Linked DNA regions of Homo sapiens: region 2 is linked to region 1. The links come from fine-mapping of genetic effects on gene expression. Tissue or cell type: monocytes. Region 1 holds a variant in brackets; the other region holds the start of a gene. All regions are shown on one strand. Distances are between the middles of the regions.

Region 1 (8,328 bases):
TGTTTTATAGTGTTGTGGTGATGGAGGGGGTTGGTTTTTGGTTTTTTGAGACATAGTCTCACTCTGTCACCCAGGCTGGAGTGGTGAGCCACTGCGCCTGGTCTGTGGTGTTAGGTTTTAACTAACTTTTTTACTGTAGTAAAATTCACATAACAGCTGGGCACCGTGGCTCACACCTGTAATCCCAGCACTTTGGGAGGCCGAGGCGGGCCGATCACTTGAGCCCAGGAATTTGAGACCAGCCTGGCCAACATGGAGAAATCCCGTCTCTCCTAAAAGTACAAAAATTAGCCGGGTGTGGTAGCACGCATCTGTAATCCCAGCTACTCGGGAGGCTAAGGCGAGAGGATCGCTTGAACCCAGGAAGCAGAGGTTGCAGTGAGCCGGATGGCACCACTGCACTGCAGCCTGGGTGACAGAGTGAGACTCTGTCTCAAACAAAGAAACAAACAAACAAAAATCACATAACGTAAAATGTACCTTTTAAACCATTTTTGAAGTATACAATTCAGTGGATCTAATACATGCACAATGCGTGTGACCATCACCTCTGTCTAATTCCAGAATATTCCCACCGCCCCAAAAAGGAACCCCATACCCATCCAGCAGTCATTGCCCATCCTCCTTCCCCCCAGCTCCTGGAATTCCGCTTTCTTTCTGTCTGGATTTGCCTCTTCTGAATGTTTCATATAGATGGAATCCTGTACTACTTGGCCTTCTGTGGCTGGCTTCTTTCAGTTAACGTGTTTTCAAGGCTCATACAGGCTGTAGTATGCATCAGAATTTCCTTCCTTTTTTATGGCTAAATGATATTCCATTGTATGGATAGACCCCATTTTGACTATTTTGAATAATGCGCCTATGAAAATTTGTGTACATATTTGTGTTTGAACCCCCATTTTCAGTTCTTCGAACATATATCTAGGAGTACAGTTGGCTAGATCATATGGTAACTCTTGTGTTTAACTTACTGAGGAAGTTCAAAGGGTTTCTGTTTCTCCAGGTCCTTACCAACATGGGTTATCTCCCATTTGTTGACGCTAGCCATCCTGGTGGGTGTGTAAGTGGTATTTCACTGTAGTTTTTATTTGCATTTCCCCAATGTCTGATTGTTTTGGTTGTAGATTTTATTGTCATGGAAGGATTTGACCACAGGTAGGATAGAGGTAAGCAGAGAAGATGGAGAATGGTGCTCCTTGTGGAAGGAATGGCACAGGCAGCGGCTAGGAGGTGGGACCATGCACGGCCTGGGAAGGGATGTGAGTAGAGGTGGCGGGGTCCCCTGCTCTCCCAGAATAGGAAGCCAAGGCTAGGCACAGTGCGTCACACCTGTAGTCCCAGGACTTTGGGAGGCTAAAGCAGGCGGATCACTTGAGGTCAGGAGTTTGAGACCAGCCTGACCAACATGGCAAAACCCCTTCTGTACAAAATTACAAAAATACAAAAATCAGCTGGGCATGGTGGCAGGTGCCTGTAGTCCCAGCTACTCAGGAGGCTGAGGTATGAGGATGCTTGAGCCTAGGAGGTCAAGGCTGCAGTGAACTGGAGTGAGTGCCTTCCAGTCTGGACAATAGAGCGAGACCCTGTCTCAAAAACAATAATAATAATGATGAGGGAATCAGGCCTGGAGGTGGCTACTGTAGCTGCTGGCCCTAGGGAGAGAGTGGTGATGGCAGAGCCACCCTCACAGCCTCTGCTTGTTCATAACCCACTGGGCCTGGAAGCAAAAGGGTGTATCCATTGCCCACAAAGTCCCACAGAGTCTGGCTGTGGGGCTGGGTGTCAGGACCTGTCCAAGCCCCGCTTGTGTATGCCCTGGCCACTGGGGCGGGCAGGGACCGGCACTGGAACCCTGACCATACCTGTTACTGAAGTTGAGCCAGATGCCACGGGAGGGTTATAAAGCACGCCCTTATCCCCACGTCCACTGCCAGGCGCAGCCCCGGGTATAATCGGCGCTACCTACCGTGGCAGCATCAGTATTCCAGACCCTTCCATCCGAGGTTTCTCAGAATTCTCAAGCAGTCAAGGAAGCCCTGTCCTGTCCCCATACACAGTCCCTGTCTTCCCTCTGTCTCTCTCCTGATCTCTGTCTCTCTCCTCCAATTTCTTTTGTGTGTGTGTGTGTGTGTGTGTGTGTGTGTGTGTGTGTGACAGAGTCTCACTCTGTCGCCCAGGCTGGAGTGCAATGGTGTGATCTCGGCTCACTGTAACCTCCGGCTCCTGGGTTCAAGCAATTCTCCTGCCTCAGTCTCCGAAGTAGCTGGGATTACAGGCACCCAACTAATTTTTTGTATTTTTAGAAGAGACAGGTTTTGCCATGTTGGCCAGGCTGGTCTTGAACTCCTGACCTCAGGTGATCCACCCACCTTGGCCTCCCAAAGTGCTGGGATTACAGGCATGAGCTACTGCACCCAGTCACCTCCATTGTCTTCTTTCTGTTTTTCTCACTCTGCATTTTTTTGATTCACCTATCTCTCTCTCTCTCTCTCTCTCTCTCTCTCTCTCCCCCTCTCTCCCTCTCTCCCTCTCCCTCTCCTCCCCCCACCCCACTCTCTCTCTCCCCCTGCCTCTCTCACCATCTCTCTCCCCCTCTGTTTGCTCTGTCTCTTCCTCCCTGACCCTCCCTGTCCCTCCAGTGCTCTCTTTTCATCTCTCTTGCACCATCCTTATCTCTCCAGGAGAGAGAGATTTCCCAGGATCTGGAACTTTCTGTAGTAAAATAAGGAAAGTCGCGGGCAGACTGGGATGGGTTGGTCACTCTGCTCTCTCTCCTGTCCCCAGCTGCCCACAGCCCTGTCTGGCACCCCACCCACAAGCCCAGCAAGGCAAGAAGACCCTGCCTCTCCCTGTCGTCGCCTCCCTCTCCAAATAACCCAGTTGTTCACATGTGACTCCCCCAGCCCTGTAATTAGCACAGTCTTCCTGATAGAGATAATTTCTGAATCTTTCCATCACTTCGTCAGAAGCGATTCTCAGTCAGAGGAGTCAGAAAGGCGGGGTTCTCCCTGGGGGAGTGGGATTGGGGGGTGGCTGTGTTCTTTCCTGCCAATCATCTCCATGTCATCCTGTTCGCTTCGCTTCTTGGCCCTCTAGGTTGGGACATGGGTGCAGATAGTTTTCCAAGAGGGAGATGCCTTCAAAGACCCTCAGTTTTTTGTGTTTTTTGTTTGTTTGTTTGTTTTCGAGGTGGAGTCTTGTTCTTTCACCTAGGCTGGAGTGCAGTGGCGCAATCCCGGCTCACTGCGACCTCTGCCTCCCAGGTTCAACCAATTCTCCTGCCTCAGCCTCCAGAGTAGCTGGGGCTACAGGTGTGTGCAAACACACCTGGCTAATTTTTTGTATTTTTAGTAGAGATGGGGTTTCACCATGTTGGCCAGGCTGGTCTCGAACCCCTGACCTCAGGTGATCCACCCGCGTTGGCCTTCCAAAGTGCAGGGATTACAGGCGTGAGCCACCATGCCCGGCCCAAAGACCGTCAGTTTTCCAGCTGGCCCCAGCCCCTCTCCTGCTGCCGACAGTGGGCAGACACCTAGGACAGACTCTCACTTTCCCAGACTGGCCCTCCCACACCAACATGGCATCAGTGTTGGTAACAGTGAGCCTGGAACATGCCCACGTCAGCCTTGGCATCACATGGATGCTACCTGAATGGCCAGGATCAGCTCACTTGGGGCTGGGGGCACAGTAGACTTCTTGAGACCTCACGGTCACAAAGGGCCATGATGCTGCTACTTCGAACTCGGGGGCTTCACCTTGCCCTCTTCAGGAGTACTCAGGGATCCTGGCTGAAATTACTCCATAGGCATCTGCCCAGAGCCCCTGCCCCACCCCCAGGCTCTGGGGACTCACCTGTGACTAACTTGTAGTCCTTGCCTTCAAGGGGCTCACAGTTGGTAGATGAGAGGACAGTGTTGGGCATAACCCAACCCCAGCTCAAGTCCTGACTTTGCCATTTATTGCTGTGTGATCTTGGACACGTTGTCTAACCTCTCTGAACCTCGGTTTCCTCACCCATAAAATGGGATGACATAGCACTTACCTCTTAGAGGTGTCATGAGGGTCACTTGAGATCATGAGCATTGGCCAGCCACAGTGACCCATGCCTGTAATCCCAACACTTTGGGAGGCCGAGGCAGGAGGATGACTTGAGCCCAGGAGTTTGATACCAGCCTGGGCCACATAGTGAAACCCTATCTCTATTTAAAAATACATATACATATATATATATATATATATATATATATATATATATATATATATATATATATATATATATATATAAAGAGAGAGGGATCATAGGCATAAAGCACATAATACTACACTGGGCATGTAGTAAGTACTCAATAAAGGGAATTTATTAACATCATCATCATTGTCATCAGTAAGGAAGAGATCTGGCCCAAGCAAGAAATTATAGCAAACTGTGACAATATATATTCAAGGTGCTATTAGACCCCAAAAGTCTAATAGACCTCAGGGAAGGGACATTTAGGACTGGATCTTGAGGAATGCATAGGAGTTCAAGATTAGAAGGAAAGTCCTCAGGATGGCAAGACCAGCCTGAGCAAAGACATAGGGGCTTAGAGAGGAGCCTAGATGTTTGTGAAGGGGAGTGAGGGAAATGCTGTAGCTCCAGTTGGCAGGGACAAGGGAGTTCAGAGCCTTAATCACCAAGACAAGGTGATAGACATTTCTTGCACAAGGGGCAATGGGGAGCCATTGATGATTCTGGAGCATAGGAGTGGTCTGATCCGAGTGACCAACTCACCCACGACAGAGAAGGAAGGAACCCATCCTGGGCTCAGGATGTCTCTTCTGAAAGTAAAGCCGTTGCTCCCTTTTCTTCCAGCTGTCATACATTTTAATGGTTATTTTAACAAGTTTCCAG[C/A]AGGTGGCAGTTGAATGCCTCAAGGAAGAGGCATCTTTTTCTAATGTGCTGGGATTAGGTGTGGCCAGTGCTGGGATTCCTAGACCCCACACCATGCTTGCCAACCCATTAGGGGTGCCTCCCTGGGGATGCTCCCACCTTTCCTGGTTTCTCAGGAGGCTCAGCTCACACTGGGACTCCCATGGGTGCCTCTAATGCCCCAGGAGGTGGAGGTGGTAGAGGAGGTGGAGGTGGACCCTTGCCCCACGTTATCTCATGGAGGTCTCTCGATGGCCCCAAGTAGTATGTATAATGCTACGTGTCTTATGGCCCCATTTAACAGATGGAAGGACGGAGGCTTGGCAAAGTCATCCACCCGAGATCACAAGCCCCAGATATCTTTCAAATCATTTTTCCAATATATAGTCACACAAAATGTCTTTTGAAAAATGAAAAATGGGCCCGGCATGGTAGTTCAAGCCTGTAATCCCAGTACTTTGGGGGCGCCGAGGAGGGTGGATCACTTGAGGTCAGGAATTCAAGACCAGCCTGGCCAATATGGCGAAACCCCATCTCTACTAACAATACAAAAGTTAGCCGGGTGTGGTGGCAAACGCTTGTAATCCCAGCTATGGGGGAGGCTGAGGCAGGAGAATCACTTGAACCCAGGAGGCTAGGTTGCAGTGCGCCAAGATCATGCCACTGCACTCCAGCCTGGGCGACAGAGTGAGTGAGACTCCATCTCCAAAAAAAAAGAAAAATGAAAAATGTAGTTTAAAAATCTGTCTACCTTTTTTTTTTTTTTTTTTTTTGGAAACAGAGTCTTGCTCTATTGCCCAGGCTGGAGTGCAGTGGTGTGATCTCGGCTCTCTGCGAGCTCCGCCTCCCAGGTTCAAGCGATTCTGCTGCCTCAGCCTCCCGAGTAGCTGGGATTACAGGCATGTGCCACCATGCCCAGCTAATTTTTGTATTTTTTAGTAGAGACGGGGTTTCACCATTTGGCCAGGCTGGTCTCCAACTCCTGACCTTAGGTGATCCTCCCACCTTGGCCTCCCAAATTGCTGGGATTATGGGCATGAGCCACTGCACCCGGCCCCAATCTAGCTTTTTAATGTGGCATTGCACCATGGACATCTTTTCATTACATTTTCTTTCATTGCCTCGGAAGAGCCCACTGCAGGGATCCCCCATATTTTATTCAGCCAATCTCCTGTGGTTGAACTTGTAGATCATTGCTGGATCATTGCTGACTTCTTTAGTTGTTGCCGTTTATTTAACTTTTCGTTTTGAGGTAACTTCTAATTTACAGAAAAATTGAAACAGTAGAACAGCAAACTCCCTGCACTGTACCCAGTTTGAACAGTTATTAATTTTGCCATAATCGTGCTCTTTCTCTGCCATTTGAGGAATTCATTGACATCTTGTCCCTTTAGCCCTAAATGCTTCAACAAGTGCTTTCCAAAAACAAGAAATTTTACAGTGGTAAAATACTGGCATGTATCCCACCATCTATATTCAGGTTTCTTCAGTTGTCCCAATAATATCCTTTATGAGCTATATAAATTTTTAGATACAATATATAAATCTTGGCCAGGTGCTGTGGCTCACGCCTGCAATACCAGCACTTTGGGAGGCTAAGGCAGGTAGATCACTTGAGGTCAGGAGTTTGAGACCAGCCTGGCCAACATGGTGGAACCCCGTCTCTACTAAGAATACAAAAAATTAGCCGGGTGTGGTGGCATGCACCTATAATCCCAGTGACTTAGGAGGCTGAGGCACAAGAATCTCTTGAACCCGTGAGGTGGAGGTTGCAGTGAGCCAAGATCATGCCACTGCACTTCAGCCTGGGTGAAGTTTTTTGAGACAGAGTGAAACTCTTGTCTCAAAAAAAGAAAAGTGAGCCAGGCATGATGATGCACACCTGTGGTCCGAGCTGCTTGGGAGGCTAAGGTGGAAGGATCACTTGAGCCCAGGAGGTCGAGGTTGCAGTGAGTTATCACCAAGCCACTGCACTCCATCCTGGGCAACACAGCAAGACCCTGTCTCAAAATGAATTAATTAAATAAAATATGTAAATTTCTTTTCCCTGTGCAGGATGAGATTCAAGATCACTTGTGTTTAGTTTTCATGTTTTGATTTCGACAGTTCTGCCTTTCTTTGTTTTCCAGTGTTGCCCTTTCTGAAGAGTAGAGGCTGTTATTTCCTGGACAGTCTGAGTTTGGTTGCCTGATGTTCCCTTGAAATCAGATTCGGGCTGTGTACTTGGGGCTGGGAATATCACAGAAGTGATGCCATGTCCTTCTCAGGCCATCCTCTCAGGAGGCCCATGTTGCTGACTTGCCCTGTGATTGGTGATAGTAACTTGGATCATTGGTTAAGATGGTATCCACCAGTGCCTGTAATCCCAGCTAGTCAGGAGGCTGACGCAGGAGAATCGCTTGAACCCGGGAAAGAGGTTGCAGTGAGCCGAGATCGCACCACTGCACTCCAGCCTGGGTGACAGAGAGAGTCCAACCAGGTCTCTGTACTGTAAAGTGGCTACTTTTCCCTTTGTAATTACTAAGCATCGGCCAGGTGTGGTGGCTCATGTCTGTAATCCCAGCACTTTGGGAGGCTGAGGCGGGTGGATCATGAGGTCAGGAGATTGAGACCATCCTGGCTAACATGGTGAAACCCCGTCTCTACTAAAGATACAAAAAATTAGCAGGGCGTAGTGGCGCATGCCTGTAGTCCCAGCTACTTGGGAGGCTGAGGCAGGAGAATCGCTTGAACCCGGGAGGCGGAGGTTGCAGTGAGCCGAGATCACACCACTGCACTCCAGCCTAGGCAACAGAGCGAGACTCCGTCTTAAAAAAAAAAAAAAAATTGCTAAGCATCATGTGGGGAGATACTTGGAGACTTTGTAGAAATCCCAGTCCAGTCCTCATCAAACTTTCATCCACTAGTTTTAGCATCCAGGGTGGTCCCTACCTGAGCGATTATTACTACAGTGGTTGCAAAATGGGTGTTTGGCAACTCTTGGCTGTAAGAAGCAAGCCTCCCGAAAGTGGATGTGTCTGTGCCAGATTATAGTAACCACCTTCTCTTTCTCTGTGGCCCACAGCCAGTCCCACAGAACCAAGGTCCTCACCATCCCCACCCCCCAGCCCCACAGAGCCTGAGAAGAGCTCCCAGGAGCCGTTGAGCCTGTCCCTGGAGAGCAGCAAGGAGAACCAGCAGCCAGAGGGCCGCTCCAGCTCCTCGTTGAGCGGGAAGATGTACTCAGGCAGCCAGGCCCCAGGGGGCATCCAGGAGATCGTGGCCATGTCCCCCGAGCTGGACACGTACTCCATCACCAAGAGGGTGAAGGAGGTCCTCACAGACAACAATCTAGGTACGGAGCGGGTGGGAATCGGAGAGGCTGCCTCCCACCTGGGTTGGCTCCTACTTGCCTTGAAAAGGTGTCTGGAGCTGGGACC
Region 2 (8,328 bases), 38 kb after region 1:
ACTTGGGAGGCTGAGGCAGGAGAAGTGCTTGAACCCAGGAGACAGAAGTTGCAGTCAGCCGAGATTGCACTACTACACTCCAGCCTGGGGACAGAGCCAGACTCCGTCTCAAAAAAAAAGAAAGAATTTGGGGAAAGATGCAGGCCCAGGGCTAGGCTGACTTACAGGAAGGAGGGGCAGGGGGTCGACCCGTGCCATTTAGCATAGAGGACTCTAACTCCATGCCATCGGCCACAGTGACCCCATCCACCTTCCCCCAAGGAGTATATGATGGGGCAACGCTGGCCAGGAAGGACTTGTCGGGAGGTGGCATCTGCGTCCCTGGCCTGGCCACCTTCCCTTGGGGTTTTCCATGGCCATTTTGAGAGCCTGCCTTATCTCCCACTGCAGAGCCTCAGCCTGCATAGGATGGTAGCTACATTTTTCAAGAAGCAAAGGATATAAAGTCCTGGTACGCAGTAGGCACTCAGTGTTCATTCCCCTGCCTGGGTGGTGTCTTTCTCAGAGCCTGGTGGAATGAGGTCAGGGTGGTGGCTCTCCTGGGAGCAGGTGACCGCAGTGAGGCCCTGCCAGACTACCTGTCCTAGGGTGGAGGGGGTTGTCCTTGCCACCTCCTGTCAGCCACATAGGCAGTCAGGGAAGGCTTCCTAGAAGACGGAACATGAGTTGTGACTTAGAAACTGAGATCAACCAACCCAAATGCCCATCAATGATAGACTGAATAAAGGAAATGTGGTACATACACACCATGGAAAACTATCCAGCCATAAAAAGGAATGAGATCATGTCCTTTGCGGGGAAATAGATGGAGCTGGAAGCCATCATCCTCAGCAAACTAACACAGGAACAGAAAACCAAATACCGCATGTTCTTACTCATAAGTGGGAGTTGAACAATGAGACACATGGACACAGGGAGGGGCAGAACACATATCGGGGCCTGTTGGGGGATCGGGGGTGAGGGGAGGGAACTTAGAGAACGGGTCAATGGTGCAGCAAGCCACCATGGCACACGTATACCTATGTGACAAGCCTGCATGTTCTGCACATGTATCATGGAACTTAAAATAAAAAAAGAAACTGAGGTCAGTTTGTCCTGACCTAGTGGGAGGCCAAGGCCAGAGCCCCCAAAGTCTCCAGGTGTTGAATCCCCACCCTGCCTCTCAGCTACAGCTGTCCCTCTCTAAGCCGCAGGGATTCACGCATTCCCCACACCACCACCCATCAACTCCCATGTGGATGCTGGCCCCGGTTCTCACAGGACCCTCCCGCCCTGCTTGCCCAGTTCCGCTCCTACCTCTCAGGCCACCACTTGCCTCCCTGCCCTCTGCTCAGCTCCAGCCTCAGCTCGCTCTTCTCTGGATTCAAATGTCAGCTCTGCAGCATCTGGGCTGGGGGACCCCAGGCAGGCTATTCATCTCTCTGGGCCTCTGTTTCTGCATCTGTAAAATGGGATCGTAACAGTGCCTAAGTCAGGGCTGTTGTGACAATGATACAGTGACTATATGGACTTTGCGGAGCATGGGGCCAGGCACACAGTGCCTGCTGAGCGCGGTTGCAGTTCACATTTTTCTTGGCTTTTCCCCAAACATCCCTGTGTTGTGCTTCCGATCTCAGCAAATGGCCCTTGGTTTCCCTCTCACCCCCGCATCTGATCGCACATCAAGTCCAGTTGATCCCCCTCTCCAGCGTCTTCCAAATCAGTTGCCTAATCTGTCCACTCCACCTCCCCATTCTAGGCCCCATCACCATTCACTGGGATGGCTGCTGTAGCCTCCTCATAAGTCTCCTTGCCCCTCCCTGTCCATGTTCCTCAAGGTAAGATCCAAGCCTCCTTCCTAAGCTCTTCTCCGAGCCACACTGAAATCCACTTCCCACAGATGGATCCTGTGAAAATTAAGTCCAATCACACTCCTCCTCTGCTCTAAACCCTCCCATGGCTCCCTACTTCTCTCAGCATAAAATTAAATCCTTAGGCAGGGTGCGGTGGCTCACACCTGTAATGCTGGCACTTTGGGAGGCTGAGGGGGTAGGATTGCTTGAGTTAGAGACCAGCCTGGACAACATAGCAAGACCCTATCTCTATAAAAAATAGAAAAAAAAATAGCTGGGCATGGTGATACAAGCCTCTAGTCCTAGCTATCTGGGAGGCTAACATGGAAGGACCCCTTGAACTTGGGGGGTGACATAGTGAGATTCTGTCTCAAAAAAAAAAAAAAAAAAATCCAAGCCTCCCTTGGCTTCCAAGTTCCCTTTCCCTACCTCTTTCCCCCTTGTTCACTCAGCTCCAGCCATCCTGGCCTCCTTTCTGTTCCTCAAATACACCAGACACATCCCCACCTCCAAGACTTGGTCCCGGCTGTCTGCCTGCAGGTCTTCACAAGGCCAGCTCCCCATCCTTTGGTCTCAGCCTAGCTGTCACCTCCTCAGAGAGGTGGTCCCTGGCCACCCTATGCACAAGAGGCCCCCCAGTCCCTCTCCTGTGCCTCCACCTGAAATTAATACCTGGGTCATTTCTGCCTGCAGGGGCGTTTGTGGTCTGAATTCTAGTGCCTGGCATGCAGTAGGTACTCACACAGCTGTTTGATTCATTCTGCAGTATCTTCTGAAACCTTTCAACAGCCCCAAGACAAGGGATCTCACCCCACATTCACAGATGTGGAAATGGACACAGGGAGATTCAATAAGTTGGCTAGAGGCATACAACTGTGCCCAGAATCACATGCTCCAGGCAAGCCACCCAAATAAAGGGGCTGATCTTGGGGTCTCTCCACCCCATCAAGGCCAAAGGAATAGCAACTTCCCTCCTGCTCAGCAACCCTCCTCCCCCGACTGCCTAGATAGAGGCCAAACTGGTTCAAGGTCACCAGCAGGCACAGGACCCAGCTCTGCCCATGACCCCTGCCTCCACCAGAACTGGGAAGACAGGAAGCTGCAGGGGCACAGGCGCCAGCCTTGCCTGGAGCGAAGGCCTGGCCCCTGCCTTATCTCCCCACACTGTTTTCCAAGAAGTTCAGAGTCCACTGTGGGCACTGCTGCTGATTCAACAGCCCATGGCCAGACAGGAAGCTGGAGGGAGCCTGGCCCAGCTCTGCTCCCAAGGCAAAGTTCCTGCCTCCGCAGGTCCAGGCTGGAGGACCTTGGACAAGTCGTTTCACCTTTCCAAGTCTCAGTGTCCTCATCTGTTAAATTGGGCTGTGTGGCGAGGGTTCATGAGCTAAAAGAAGGAAAACCCACTGGCAAACTATGGGAAATGGATTGCAAATATTAGCTGCTGTGAGTCGGAGTTTTTTCTCAGCCTCATCTGCAAAATGGTGACGTTAACTTCCATCCCTCTAAGGGCTGAGTGAATTGACTCCTGAAGAGTCATTTTGCAAAATACTTGGTGGGTAGTGAGCTTTCAGGGAAAGAGCTGTCAAAAAGGCAAATAATTCATCCAAGATCTCCAGGGGCACAGCTGGCCCCGGAACCCAGGTCTCCTGGGAGACTGAAGCATGGCATTTTGGCACTCACATCAACGAAAAGAAGCCAGTACCGCAGGTCCTGGGGTTGAATCCAGCTGCCCTCAGTGTCCCCCAGCAGCGGGCGTGGGGAAGAGGGTGTGGCAGGCACAGGCTGAAAAACATGTGTGCCAAGAACACTAAAGAGCAGCCTGGCCGTCACCGCCCCAGCAGGGACCCCAGAGACACGCCAGCACCGCCGTCCAGACACAGGCAGCCCCCTTGTCCACGGCAGGGGCTGCTGCTCCAGGTGTGGCCCTGCTCCCGGCTGCTCTCTGTCCCTTTGTGTGTTGTGCGTGGGAGCTCTCTTAAGTTCCTTAAAGGACAGCCAGAGCCCCAGATGGGTGATCAGCGGCAGAATGGGGGGCTTATCCGCAGTCCCCACCAGCGGCAGACGTCCCTATGGGCTGAGAGAGGGGAGGGTGGTCATTGGCCAAGTTCGCCTCGGCAGCTGGAGAAGTCACCACTGGTGCGGAGTCCCAGCGGGGAAGATCCCCGCAACGCGCTCTCCAGGTGGCCGGGGGACCCCGAGGCCCAGGGCGGCCCGACCCGGGTCCCATGTCCTCGTGCATGTCCCCCCGCCAGGCCCGCCTTACCTCGCAGCGCAGGCCTAGGGCGGCGACGGGACGGGAGGCGCGAGGTTGCGGGGTGGCCCGGCCATGGTTCGGGACTGGCCCGGTGGCGGCGACGGCGGCGGCAGCGCTTTGTCTCCTGGGCGGCCGGGCCGGCGCAGCCGCGGGAGAGCGCGGATCCGACGGAAGGAGGCGGGAGCAACCGGACAGTCCGCGACCCACGGGCGCGCCCCTTTAACCCTTCCCAGCCTGCTCGCGCCGGGCCCGCCCCCGCGTTCTTCCCACCTCCCGATTGGCAGGCCCCGAACCGGCACGCCCCCGTGAGCCCGCCCTCGAAATCACTCTTAAAGGGTCCGCTCCTGGCTCGCGACTCCCCAGTTCCCTAGCCCAGAAAAGCGGATTGGAGCCCGGGAAGCTCATTGCGATTCCAAAGGTAAGGACTGGCCCAGGTCGTGGATTAGCCTGCAAAAGCATTTGGGGGTCCTGGGCGGGCCATTCGCTGAAGTCCTAGGCTTAAGTCCGAACTCCCCCCAGGACGAGGCAGGAGGATTGCCTGAGCCTAGTAGTTCAAGACCAGCCTGGGCAGCAGAGGGAGACCACCATCTCTACAAATAATAAAAATATTTGCTAAACCTGGGTTGCCAGGTTTAGCAAATTTAATGCCCAGTTAAATTAGAAAAATAGCTCTAATTCCTGAAAAATGTGTGAGTGGCAGAAAAAACAGCTGAATCCAGGACATTTGCGTACAGCACTGTTCCATACGGACAGGGCGCCTCGCAAGCTTCCCCTGGCTCCAGGTGAAGAGAGGAAGTTCTGGAATTAGGCAGACTTGAGTTCGAGTCGCACTAGGCCACTGAACACTGTGTGAGCTTAGAGAAATCATTTCACTTCTCTAAGCCTCCGTTTCCTCATCCGGAAAATAAAGACCATCATGATATGTAAAGTGCACGGCACAACAGAAAGCTCTCAAGAAATAGGAATTGCTGTTGTTTTTGCCCTGCCCACCTCCTTGAACCCTTCCTTCCTGTTCCTGCCGCCTCTTCTCCACCACCCGCCACCTCCCAATCACTATTAAGTCCTGGCCTGAAAGCAGGAAGAACAGGACAGACCAGGGTCAGCTCTCCATTGTACAGCCTCTCACTAAGCGCCTACTGTGTGCCAGGCACTGTACCTGAACCAGGTAAGCAGGTGCAGCCAGGAATCAAGACAACACAAATGAGTTCTGGAAGTGATTCATGCTAGGACTGTACGCTAAGGCAATGGGGCAGAAAGCCTGGGAGTGCAGTTTTTTTGTTTTTGTTTTTTGTTTTTTGTGTTTTTTTGTCACCCAGGTTGGGGTGCAGTGGCACAATCACAGCTCATTGTAACCTGAACTCCTGGGTTCAACCGAGCCTCCCACCTCAGCCTCCCAAGTAGTTGGGACTACAGGTGTGTACCACCACACCCGGCTAATTTTTTTTAATTTTTTGTAGAGATCGGGGGGGTCTTGCTATCTTGCCCAAGCTGGAAGTGCAGCTTTTAGACAAGGTGGTCAGGGAAGGCCTCTCTGAGGACAGACCTGGAGGAATGAGGGAGGGAGCCATGTGGTTATCTGGGAGAAGGAGGTCCCAGGCAGAGGGAACAGCAAGTGCAAAAGCCCTGAAATGGGGCCATCCTGGGCATGTTTGAAGAACAACGAGGAGACCAGTGGAGCCAAGTGAGCAATGGGAAGAATAGTAGGAAAATAGGTCAGCTGGCTGGGCGCAGTGGCTCACGCCTATAATCCCAGCACTTTGGGAGGCCGAGGCAGGTAGATCACTTGAGGTCAGGAGTTCGAGACCAGCCTAGCCAACATGGTGAAACCCGGTCTCTACTAAAAATACAAAAAAAAAAAAAAAAAAAAATTAGCCAGGCATGGTGGTGTACACCTGTAATCCCAGTTACTTGGGAGGCTGAGACAGGAGAATCACTTGAACCCAGGAGGCAGAGGTTGCAATGAGCTGAGATTGCACCACTGCACTCCAGCCTGGGTGACAGAGCAAGACTCTGTCAAACAAAAAAAAAACAAAAACAAAAAAAAAAACACAATAGATCAGAGATTATTGGCAAAGCCAGAAAGCCAGGTGACCTAGGGGCTTAAGGACCAGAGGAAAGATTTTGCTTTTACTCTAAGAAGAATGAGGAGCCATGGGAGGGTTTTGAGCAGAGGAGGGACATGGTCTGTGTTAGATTTAACATGGTCCCTGACTGCTATGGGCAGGGAATGATAGTAGAAGCCAGGCGATCAGGGAGAACACTACTGCAGTAGTCCAAGCAAGTGATGGTGGTGGCTTAGAGTGGAGCAGTGGAGGTGGAGAGAAGTGGTTAAGTATAGATATATATTTAATGGATATATGTATTAGTCCGTTTTCACACTGCTGATAAAGACATACCCGAAACTGAGAACAAAAAGAGGTTTAATTGGACTTACAGTTCCACATGGCTGAGGAGGCCTTGGAATCATGGCGGGAGGTGAAAGACACTTCTTACATGGCAGTGGCAAGAGAAAGTGAGGAAGAAACAAAAGCGGAAACCCCTGATAAACCCTTCAGATCTCGTGAGACTTATTCACTATTATAAGAATAGCGTAGGAAAGACTGGCCCCCATGACTCAATGACCTCCTCTTGGGTCCCACTCACAACACGTGGGAATTCTGGGAGATACAAATCAAGTTCAGATTTTGGTGGGGACACAGCCAAACCATATCATTTTGCCCCGGCCCCTCCAAATCTCACGTCCTCACATTTCAAAACCAATCATGCCTTCCCAACAGTCCCCCAAAGTCTTAGCTAATTTCAGAATTAACCCAAAATTCCACAGTCCAAAGTCTTGTCTGAGACAAGGCAAGTCCCTTCTGCCTATGAGCCTGTAAAATCAAAAGCAAGCTAGTTACTTCCTAGATACAGTGGGGATGCAGGTATTGGGTAAATACAGCCGTTCCAAATGGGGGAAATTGGCCAAAACAAAGGGGTTACAGGGCCCATGCAAGTCTGAAATCCAGTGGGGCAGTCAAATTTTAAAGCTCCAAAATGATCTCCTTTGACTCCGGGTCTCACATCCAGGTCACGCTGATGCAAGAGATGGGTTCCCATGATCTTGGGCAGCTCCACTCCTGTGGCTTTGCAGGGTACAGGCTTCCTCCTGGCTGCTTTCACGGGCTGGTGGTGAGTATCTGTGGCTTTTCCAGGCACACAGTGCAAGCTGTCAGTGGATCTACCATTTCAGAGTCTGGAGGATGGTGGCCCTCTTCTCACAGCTCCACTAGGCAGTACCCCAGTAGGGACTCTGTGTGGGGGCTCTGAACCCCACATTTCCCTTCTGCACCACCCTAGCAGAGGTTCTCCATGAGGGCCCTGCCCCTGCAGCAAACTTTTGCCTGGGCATCCAGGCATTTCCAAACATCTTCTGAAATCTAGGCAGAGGTTCCCAAACCTGAATTCTTGACTTCTGTGCACCCACAGGCTCAACACCACATGGAAGCTGCCAAGGCTTGGGGCTTCCACCCTCTGAAACCACAGCCTGAGCTCTGTGTTGGTGCCTTTCAGCCATGGCTGGAGCAGCTGGGACACAGAACACCAACTCCCTAGGATGCACACAGCACAGGAACCCAGGGCCTGGCCCACAAAACCACTTTTTCCTCCTGGACCTCTGGACCTGTGATGGAAGGGGCTGCCAGGAAGTTCTCTGACATGGCCTGGAGACATTTCCTCCATGGTCTTGGGGATTAACATTAGGCTCCTTGCTACGTAATGCAAATTTCTGCAGCCGGCTTGAATTTCTCCCCAGAAAATGGGCTTTTCTTTCTATTACAATTTACTTCTTATTTTTTTCTTTTCTTTTCTTTTTTTTTTTTTTTTTTTTTTTTTGAGACAGAGTCTTGCTCTGTTGCCCAGGCTGGAGTGCAGTGGTGTGATCTCAGCTCACTGCAACCTCCGCCTCCTGGGTTCAAGCGGTTCTTCTGTCTCAGCCTCCTGAGTAGCTGGCACCAGGTGCACGCCATTGCACATGGCTAATTTTTTGTATTTTTGGTAGAGATAGGGTTTCACCATGTTGGTCAGGCTGGTCTTGAACTCCTGACCTCAGGTAATCTGCCCACCTTGGCTTCCCAAAGTGCTGAGATTACAGGCTTGAGCCACCGCTCCCAGCCTGCAAGTTACCTCTTGAATGCTTTGCTGCTTAGAAATTTCTTCTACCAGATACCCTAAATCATCTCTCTCAAGTTCAAAGTTCCACAGATC

Alleles and levels. Positions count from the first base shown, and alleles are read on the strand shown. Sizes are in standard deviations (SD) of each study's normalised expression.
In carriers of allele C in region 1, the expression in monocytes of the gene that starts at base 4,279 in region 2 tends to be lower than with A alone (large effect, 0.84 SD a copy in Quach 2016).

What was found. PIP is the estimated chance that this variant, and not a neighbour inherited with it, causes the effect.
Region 2: it holds the start of PHETA1, and the variant in region 1 is fine-mapped to the expression of PHETA1 in monocytes (Quach 2016, PIP 0.95).

What each region holds. Positions count from the first base shown.
Region 1 is chr12:111,326,468-111,334,795 of GRCh38, forward strand. It overlaps CUX2 (cut like homeobox 2), which reads left to right. Exons shown (of 22, transcript NM_015267.4): 19 at 7,974-8,243. Among named protein-coding and RNA genes, the nearest start is that of MIR6760, 26 kb to the left of the region's middle. The variant C/A (reference allele first, on the strand shown) is at 4,892.
Region 2 is chr12:111,364,817-111,373,144 of GRCh38, forward strand. It overlaps PHETA1 (PH domain containing endocytic trafficking adaptor 1), which reads right to left and starts at 4,279. Exons shown (of 3, transcript NM_144671.6): 1 at 4,096-4,279; 2 at 1,297-1,441. LINC02356 (long intergenic non-protein coding RNA 2356) reads left to right here and starts at 4,445. Exons shown (of 4, transcript NR_187522.1): 1 at 4,445-4,504; 2 at 7,153-7,254. RefSeq lists a silencer at 3,870-4,449.